Regions from separate parts of the Homo sapiens genome. Here regions 1 and 2 are each linked to region 3. The links come from fine-mapping of genetic effects on gene expression. A gene starts in region 3. Each other region holds a variant in brackets. All regions are shown on one strand. Distances are from middle to middle.

Region 1 (2,758 bases), 52 kb before region 3:
TATATGTAAGGGGCCTATTTAGCAATAATTAATAACAATATATGTGCTAAGATTATCTGTCTTGTCTTGTCTGTCTATCTATCTATCTATCTAATCTATCTAATCTATCTATCTATCTATCTATCTATCTATCTATCTATCTATCTATCTATCTAATCTATGGAAATATGGTCTCACTCTGTTGCCCAGGCTGGAGCGCAGTGGCCCGATCTTGGTTCACTGCAGCCTCGAAATCCCTGGCTTAGGCAATTCTTCCACCTCAGCTCCCTGAGTAGCTAGGACTACAGGTACATGTCACCACGTCCAGCTAATTTTTTTGGTAATTTTTGTAGACACAAGGTTTTGCCATGTTGTCCAGGCTGGCCTTGAACTCCTGGACTCAAGTGATCCTCCTGCCTCGGTCTCTTAAAGTGCTGGGATTATAGGCATGAGCCACTATGCCTGGCCGTATGTGCTAATATTAATGCTAAACCCTTAGAATTGGAAACAACACTTTTATAGAGATCAGAAGTGATTTTCCCAAGGCTCCTCAGGTGGGTTAATAGTGGGTCCCGGGATGCCCCAGCTTCTGTAGGTGTGAGCTGGGAGTGACGCTGTCTCCTGGTTGAGATGATGTCTGTGGCAGTGTTTGGTGAGTGGTAACATGTTATATAAGAGATCATGAGTATGACTATAGAGAATTACTACTAGTGCGACTGTAAGCCCTGGGAGGGCAGGGCTGCCATATTCATCTTAGGGTCCCCAGCTACTAGTACAGTCCTTAGCTCATTAGTGGCTGTTAATAAAACAGGAGCATACAGATTAAGAGAGTTAAGTGAGATTTAAGAAATATAACAAAGAAAATAAAATGAGTGGACCTTGTTTGGATCCTGATAAGAACACACCAACTGGCCAGGCGCGGTGGCTCACGCCTGTAATCCCAGCACTTTGGGAGGCTGAGGAAGGTGGATCGTCTGAGGTCAGGAGTTCGAGACCAGCCTGTCCAATATGGTGAAACCCCCATCTCTACTAAAAATACAATTTTCATTTTTCACACGTGGTGGCATGTGACTGTAGTCCCAGCTACTAGAGAGGCTGAGGCTGGAGAATC[G/T]CTTGAACCTGGGAGGTGGAGGTTGAGGTAAGCCAAGATTGTGCCATTGCACTCCAGCCTGAGTGACAGAGCAAGACTCTGTCTCAAAACCAAATCAAACCAAACCCAACCAAACCACAACACCAACTATAAGAACATGTTTTAGACAATTGAGCAATTTGAATATGGATTGGGGAGTAGATGAAATGAAAGACTTACTGCCAGCTTTGTCAGATGTGATATTGGCATTGTAGTTATGTTATGGAAGAAAAGGTTTTTATTTTTGTTTTTTGAGATGCGTAATGAAATATTTAAGGGTAAAATCACCCGATGTCTTGGATTTAAAATACTGTAACAATAACAAAGAGGGGGAAAGTGAACAGCTGAAACGAATTTGGCAAAACAGTGGCTGAAGCTGGGTGATGGGTACATGGAAGCTCCTTGTACTATTTTTGTATATGTTTGAAAATTTTAAGTTTCATAAGAAAACATCTTTTTCCATATGAAAAGCAGACACCCAGTGTCTCAGCCCTGTCTCTGCCTGTTGTCTTGGCAAGAGGAGGGGACCCAGTGGTGAGTGTGAGTTGGGGGTAGGGGGTGGCGCTGACTGTCTGTGGGGACCCAGGATGGGCAGTGGGGTGCGGGAGGCCAGCCTGGGACCAGCAGAGCCCCCTCACTCACCGGTACAAGTTCTTTTCTTTGTCAACTACCTCAGTAGCCACAGGCCCCGTGGGGCCCCAGAAGTCATCGTCAGTCCCCAAAGGCTTCGTATGCAGGTCCCCTTGAGAGGCAGGAGAAGGCACGCACAAGAGTTCCACCGGTACTACCTCTGGGGAGCTTTCCTCTGAAACAGCAAGGCAGCGGTCAGCTCCAGATTCTCCCGCCTGGCCTCCCCTAGCCCCTATGGCTGCACTGTAAGGGGCCCTTCCCAAGGCTGGCCTGCCTGGACCATGGCAGGGAGTGTGTCTGCAGCTTCTGCTCCTGCTCCATGGCTGCCTGCCTGCTGTCTGGGGAGCCCCACTCCAGTGCCTCCAGCCCAGCCTCCGCCCATCTCCCCTTCCCCACTGGAATAGAAGTGCCACTCTCCCCAGCATGCCCAGGTGGGCAGGTTGAGAGAGAACATGGTTCAAAAGATGAAAGGGGCCAGGCACCGTGGCTCTTGCCTGCAATCTCAGCAATTGGGAAGATCTTGCTCACGTCCAGGAGTTTGAGATTAGCCTGAGCAACATGGGAAGCCGCCCTCTCTACAGAAAAAAGAAAAATATCAGCCAGGCATGGTGGTGAGCATCTGCAGTCCCAGTTCTACTCAGGAGGCGGAGGTGGGAGGATTGTTTGAGCTCAGAAGGTTTAGGCTGCAGTGAGCCATGAACATGCCACTGCACTCCAGCCTGAACACTAGAGTGAGACTCTGTTTTTTTTTTTTTTTTTTTTTTTTTAGATGGCAGGGCAAAGATGGAGATGTGATTCCCAGGCCTTAGCAGCCAAGAATGGAAGAGGCCGGACCCCGGTTCAGGGTTTGATACATGCCATAGACGTTCTGGAGAGGGGAAGCACCAGCCGGTGGGTCTCGGAGAGAGGGTAACGGAAATCCAGCCAGTTCCTAGGAGTGGGAGCTCTCTCGTGGGGGTAGCACCCTCTTGGGTAGGAAACCTGCCCCGTCCCACATCAGGGGCAGAGGGATGGAGGGAA
Region 2 (2,758 bases), 73 kb before region 3:
TTTTAAATAGAGACAGTGTCTCACTATGCTGCCCAGGCTGGTCTCAAACTCCTGGACTCAAGCAATTCATTGGCCTCAGCCTCCCAAAGTGCTAGGATTATAGGTAAGCACCCAGCCAATTATTTTTATTTAGAGACAGGATCTTGCTCTGTCTCCAGGGCTGGAGTGCAGTGGCATGATTATGGCTCACTGGAGCCTAGGCTCAAGGGACCCTTCTGCCTCAGCCTCCAGAGTATCTGGGAATACAGGCATGTACCACGATGCCCGGCTAATTAAAAAAACTGGTTTTTTTTTTTGAGATAGAGGCTCGCTCTGTTGCCCAGGCTGGAGGGCAATGGCGTGATCTCGGCTCACTGCAACCTGTGCCTCCCACGTACAAGCAATTCTGCTGCCTCAGCCTCCCGAGTAGCTGGGGTTACAGGCACCTGCCATCATGCCCAGCTAATTTTTGTATTTTTGTAGAGACAGAGTTTCACCATGTTGGCCAGGCTGGTCTTGAACTCTTAAACTCTTAACCTCAGGTGATCCGTCCGCCTTGACATCCCAAAGTGCTAGGATTACAGGCATGAGCCACTGCATCTGGCCAAAAAAATGAAAAAAAATTTTTTTTTTTAAGAGACGGGGTCTTGCTATGTTGCCCAGGCTGGTCTTGAACTCCTGGTCTCAAACTCCTGGTCTCAATAGATCTTCAGGCCTTCGCCTCTCAAAGTGCTGGGATTACAGACATGGGTGCGTATTTCGTATCTCCTTGCCACTAGAATATAAATTGCTTGAGAATAGATACTCTGGCCTCTGTTATCACTGGCACCTACAACAGCCTCAGGCTCAAAGAAGCTAAGATTTACTGTCTGCCTAGTGTTGTGTACCAGCTCGCCCAGAACAACTTCCCACTCATGAGCTCACCTAGTCAAACAACCGTTTGACGCAAGCTTTGCTATTCCCTTCTTACACATCTGAAAACCTGTTTCAAGATCACACATCTAATGGGTGGTAGAGCCAAGAATTTGATTCCCAGCTCACTGCCTGTCCCTCAGAATTCTAGCTGTTGCTATTAGAATCCAGATCCAGGCCGGGCACGGTGGCTCACACTTGTAATCCCAGCACTTTAGGAGGCCGAGGCGGGCGGATCACTTGATGCCAGGAGTTCGAGACCAGCCTGGCCAACATGGTGAAACCCCGTCTCTACTAAAAATACAAAAATTTATCCGGGTGTGGTGGTGGGCGCCTGTAATCCCAGCTACTCGGGAGGCTGAGGCAGGAGAATCGTTTGAACCCGGGAGGTGGAGGTTGCAGTGAGTGCAGTGAGCTGAGATTGCGCCACTGCACTCCAGCCTGGGCGACAGAGCGAGCCTCCGTCTAAAAAAAAAAAAGAGAATCTGGATCCAAAGCGGACATGCATGTGTGTCTCCCC[C/G]ATCCCCACACACTTGTTTGTGTCTGGCCTTTCTCCTACTCCAAGACTGGCTCCACTTCGGGGCTCGCTGCCATGGAGACGACTCCAGATTTAGGAATACATTTCCTAGGCTTCCGGCAACTAACGTGAGGACTTGCTGGGATGAGGGACGGGGAGGTCTGCAGAAGGAGGCGGGGCATGCGGGGGTTGCGGGGCTTAGAGGGTTGGCGGAGCCCCTCCTCGCGTAGGTCCTTCCTTCTTTCCCTCCCTCCCTTTCTCTTTTCTTTTTCTTTCTCTTTCTCTTTCTTCTTTCTTTCTCTTTCCTTTCTCTCTTTCCTTCCTTCCTTCCTCTTTTTCTTCATTCCTTCCTCTTCCTCTTTCTCTTCCTTTTTCTTTCTCTCTCTTCTTTCTTCTTTCTCTCTGTTGAAAATTGTTTTTGACCACACCCAGATCATACTGATATTTACAGTATAGTCCTGGCTACAAGGGAGCCCAGCTGTAACTTGTGAAGTGGGCCTGGTTTAGAAAGTAACAATGAGGTGGTAACTAATGACAGTACTAGTTGTTATCAAAAATTAACACCTTTAGGTATTTTTGTTTTGGGTTTTTGTGGTTTTGGTGCATCCACAATGTCTTCATAGTCTGCACTTATTCCCTTTGCCCACAGACCAACTGTGGCCATTCGATCTGAATTCTCACTTTCAGGGCAATCTTTCTTTAAATGTTCCACAGAGCCATGAAGTTGGCAACCACTACCATCAGCATAGAGTCCTTTGGGATTATCAGGACAAGATCTAGACAGGTGCCCCATTTCTCCACAGACAAAACATTCTGCAAAAGGACATTCGCCAAGAGGCGGGTCTACTTTAGCCTTACACTTGGTTATTTCGTGATCTGTGGACCCACACTTGTAACATCTTCTAGTGCCCATATCTTGATTTTCAAGGGCGGCAGGGCAATCCGCAATTCCACGACCAGGTTTTCTACAATGGAAACACACCATTGCATTTTTCTTTGCCCCTTGTCTTTTAAATCTTCTTACTTCCCATTGACTGTCCTCTTGGAGGAAGGGTTGTGTGGAGAGTGGAGGTCTGCATGTGGTAAAGGAGATGGGTGGGTGGGGCGTGAAGGACCCGAAAGACAAGGCCAGTCTCATGGGTGTGTGACCTGTGCGGTCACACAGAGCCCTGAGCTCAGCAGGGCCTGGCGCTTGATTTCATGTTCTGTTGTCACCGTCTTGACATTCTTATCATTTTTGAACGAGGGGCCCTGTGTTTCCATTTTGCACTGGGTCCCACAACTGCTGGAGCTGGTCCTACAGGAGGGTGAAAATTAGCATATAATGAGCAGTGAGGACAACCAGGAGTC
Region 3 (2,758 bases):
AGGTTGGAGACACATCAGAGGGGCAGGGGCAAGGTGCCAGGGAACTGAGCTGGTCTCCTCTCTCAACCAAGAGAGGTCAGGATACACCAGTGAACCCGCTGCAGCCCTCTACAACTTCCTCTAGAGGCTTGTCTGAAGAATGATGTTCTTATAGATACTGCTAGGCAAAAAATCCTCATCTAGGATCAGGAAATTTGCATATCTGTCTTGGTCCTGACTATCTCCCTGTGTAAATCACTACTCCTACTGAGCCTCAGCTGTGCTTTATTGGGCCAACGGCATCTGCAACCCAGGGTGGCTAATAGTAATAATAACAGCAGCAGCAGCAGCAGCAACAACAGCAATGGGAGATCTTATTTATTGAGCACTTACTGTATATCAGACTCTGTGCTAAATGTTTAACCTGGATGATCTCTTTTAACCCTCACACAGCCCAGGGAGGCGGGCTCTCACTCTCCCATTTTGCAGACAGAGAAATAGGCAGAGAGCAGTGAAGTGATTGGCCCAGGGTGATAGTGCCAGGACTGGTGATAGTGCCTGACTCCCAAGTCCGTGCTCATAACTACAATGCCAGGCGAGTACCGGGAATGCACTTGAATAGAAGAGGGTGTGGGGCTCTGAGGTGCAGCAAGGGCCCCCCCAGCAAGCCTCCTGGCTCCAGCATAGTCTGGGGCCTGGATCCCCCTTTGAGAGGGCAGTTCCATGTCACTGCTCAGAGGAAGGCCTGGCAGGGAGGGCTCAGTGGTGGGGTCCCAAGAGGGCAGGGCAGGCATGAGGGCCAGGGGATGTCCCGCGGGCAGTGGGGTCCTCTGTCCACTCACCTGCCCCTTCCTGGGCTTGGGCGCACAGTGACCTCAGCCCCATCTGCTCCCAGGTATGGAGGGCTAGGTCCCAGGCCCGCTGCTCCCCATACTGAGCCACCAGGTACGAGGCCACCTCCATGCCACTCGTCTTCTCTGGCTGAGCGGGTGTCTCACCCGAAGAGCTCCTGGAGTGCGCTTTATTGGCGAGCAGAAGCTGGAACTCCTTCAGCTCCTCCTTCTTCAGGAACTCCAAGTAACAGGCCAGGCGGCCCCAGGCTCCGCCAGCCATCTCTGTCCCGGAGTTAAGAGGGTGTCTGGGGGATGTTCCCAGGTGGTGAGGGTATCAGGCAGGCAGAGAACAGTGCTGTCCTTTGCCTTGGCTCTTACCGTCTCTTATTCAGCATTCGGAACCCAGTTTTATAAATCCCAGGGCACCTACAGATAGACGCCGATAGAGGGGGAGTGGTAGGAAAAGCCAGGGGAGGGAGGAGCCCAGAGGGGCCTGCAAGACACTGGAAGAAGTCAGCTGATAGGGAGGTCCTGGGATGGGGTCCAGGGCCAGGCAGGGAGGGTGAGGGTGAGGGGAGATGTGGTGACGGGAGATGGGGTGTGGGCAACGCTCACTGTTCTGTGTTCCTCAGATTCTTCCCTCTCCTGGGTCCTGGACTCCTGAGATCAACCCTTGAGCTGCAAGGCTGAGAAGAGGTGGGGTGGGAGGAGCCGCAGAGCAGGGAATGGGCTTTCAGAACCCAGAGTGGAGCCCCGGGCTGCTGGCTCCCAGGTTTCTTCAGACCTCTCCAGGCCCTGGGGCACCAGCCAGCAAGAACAGCGCCTAGTCAACAAGAGCAGGAAGGAAACGTCACCCAGAGGAAACCCACAAGGGGCGTGGCCAGGGGGTAGGATCAAACCAGGCCTGGGTAGGCCAGACTCAGAGTCACAGATTCAGATGGGCCACATGGCATCTATAGGCGGACCAGGAGCACAGGCCCAGACCAGCTGACGCTGCAGCAGGTACAGGCCCATACTAAACACGGTGTGTGCACCTCCACATGGGCACTCCGCCAGCCCATCATCTAGAGCCTGTCTGCAGAGCCAGGATGCAGACTCTCCGAGCAGTTGTGTCTGCAGCCCAGGCCCAGCCTCTCAGGATGGGTGGGGCCCCCTGTGTCTGCCCGGGCAGCTCCTTATTGGGAAACATTAGAACTGGGCCAGGGAGCATTTTTCCCAGCCTCTCATGGTTTTGGGAGCTTCTTGAGTTGCACTGCATGTCCTGCCATGCTACCAGGGGCACTAAAGCATGTGTCCCAGGCCCAGGGGGCTGTTTGCCTTCTGGGCAGCCCAGCACTTAGCTGGTGAACATTTCCACCTGAAAGCAGAACAGCCCCTTCCTCATTCCTGCAAGCAGGCCTCGGGGAGCCAGGGGCAGACTTCCTCTTTCGTGGAATCTGCAAGATGCCAATGACTTCAGGTTGAGGAATGACATTGCCTACTCATTTGCTGATGTAACACACCACCAGGAATTTCTGGAGATGCTTTGGTTTCACTTGGACTGGCAGAGCCCAGGCTTCAACCCACGGCTTGCTTGGACAAGGACTCCTTATGTGCCTGATTTATTTCTTTGAGCCTCAGTTTGCCCATCTATTAAATGGGACATCATAGGTTTACCAAGAGGCTTCAATTCAGCAAAAGGTCTTAGAGTCTCTCTCTCTTTCCCAGGCTGGAGTGCAGTGGCAAGATCTCGGCTCACTGCAAGCTCCCTCCACCTCCTGGGTTCCAGCGATTCTCCTGCATCAGCCCAGCTTCCTGGGCAGTTGGGATTACAGTCACTCACCACCACGCCTGGCTAATTGTTTTGTATTTTTAGTAGAGATGGGGTTTCACCATGTTAGCCAGTCTGATCCGAGGTGATCCGCCCACTTCGGCCTCCCGAAATGTTGGGATTACAGGTGTGAGCC

The links. PIP is the estimated chance that this variant, and not a neighbour inherited with it, causes the effect.
Region 1: its variant is fine-mapped to the expression of NLRP1 in whole blood (TOPMed, PIP 0.99).
Region 2: its variant is fine-mapped to the expression of NLRP1 in sigmoid colon (GTEx, PIP 0.96).

The regions. Positions count from the first base shown.
Region 1 is chr17:5,531,072-5,533,829 of GRCh38, forward strand. NLRP1 (NLR family pyrin domain containing 1) reads right to left here. Exons shown (of 17, transcript NM_033004.4): 10 at 2,233-2,313; 11 at 1,751-1,913. It overlaps LOC124903902 (a long non-coding RNA gene), which reads left to right. Exons shown (of 4, transcript XR_007065590.1): 2 at 2,508-2,629. Among named protein-coding and RNA genes, the nearest start is that of MIS12, 46 kb to the left of the region's middle. The variant G/T (reference allele first, on the strand shown) is at 1,091.
Region 2 is chr17:5,510,082-5,512,839 of GRCh38, forward strand. LOC101928044 (zinc finger CCHC domain-containing protein 9-like) reads right to left here and starts at 2,645. Exons shown (of 1, transcript XM_047437231.1): 1 at 1,871-2,645. The coding sequence starts at 2,546. The coding sequence ends at 1,959. It also overlaps a transcript of NLRP1 not described here. The variant C/G (reference allele first, on the strand shown) is at 1,412.
Region 3 is chr17:5,582,866-5,585,623 of GRCh38, forward strand. NLRP1 (NLR family pyrin domain containing 1) reads right to left here and starts at 1,644. Exons shown (of 17, transcript NM_033004.4): 1 at 822-1,644. The coding sequence starts at 1,092. RefSeq lists enhancers at 982-2,181, 1,453-1,712, 1,733-2,032.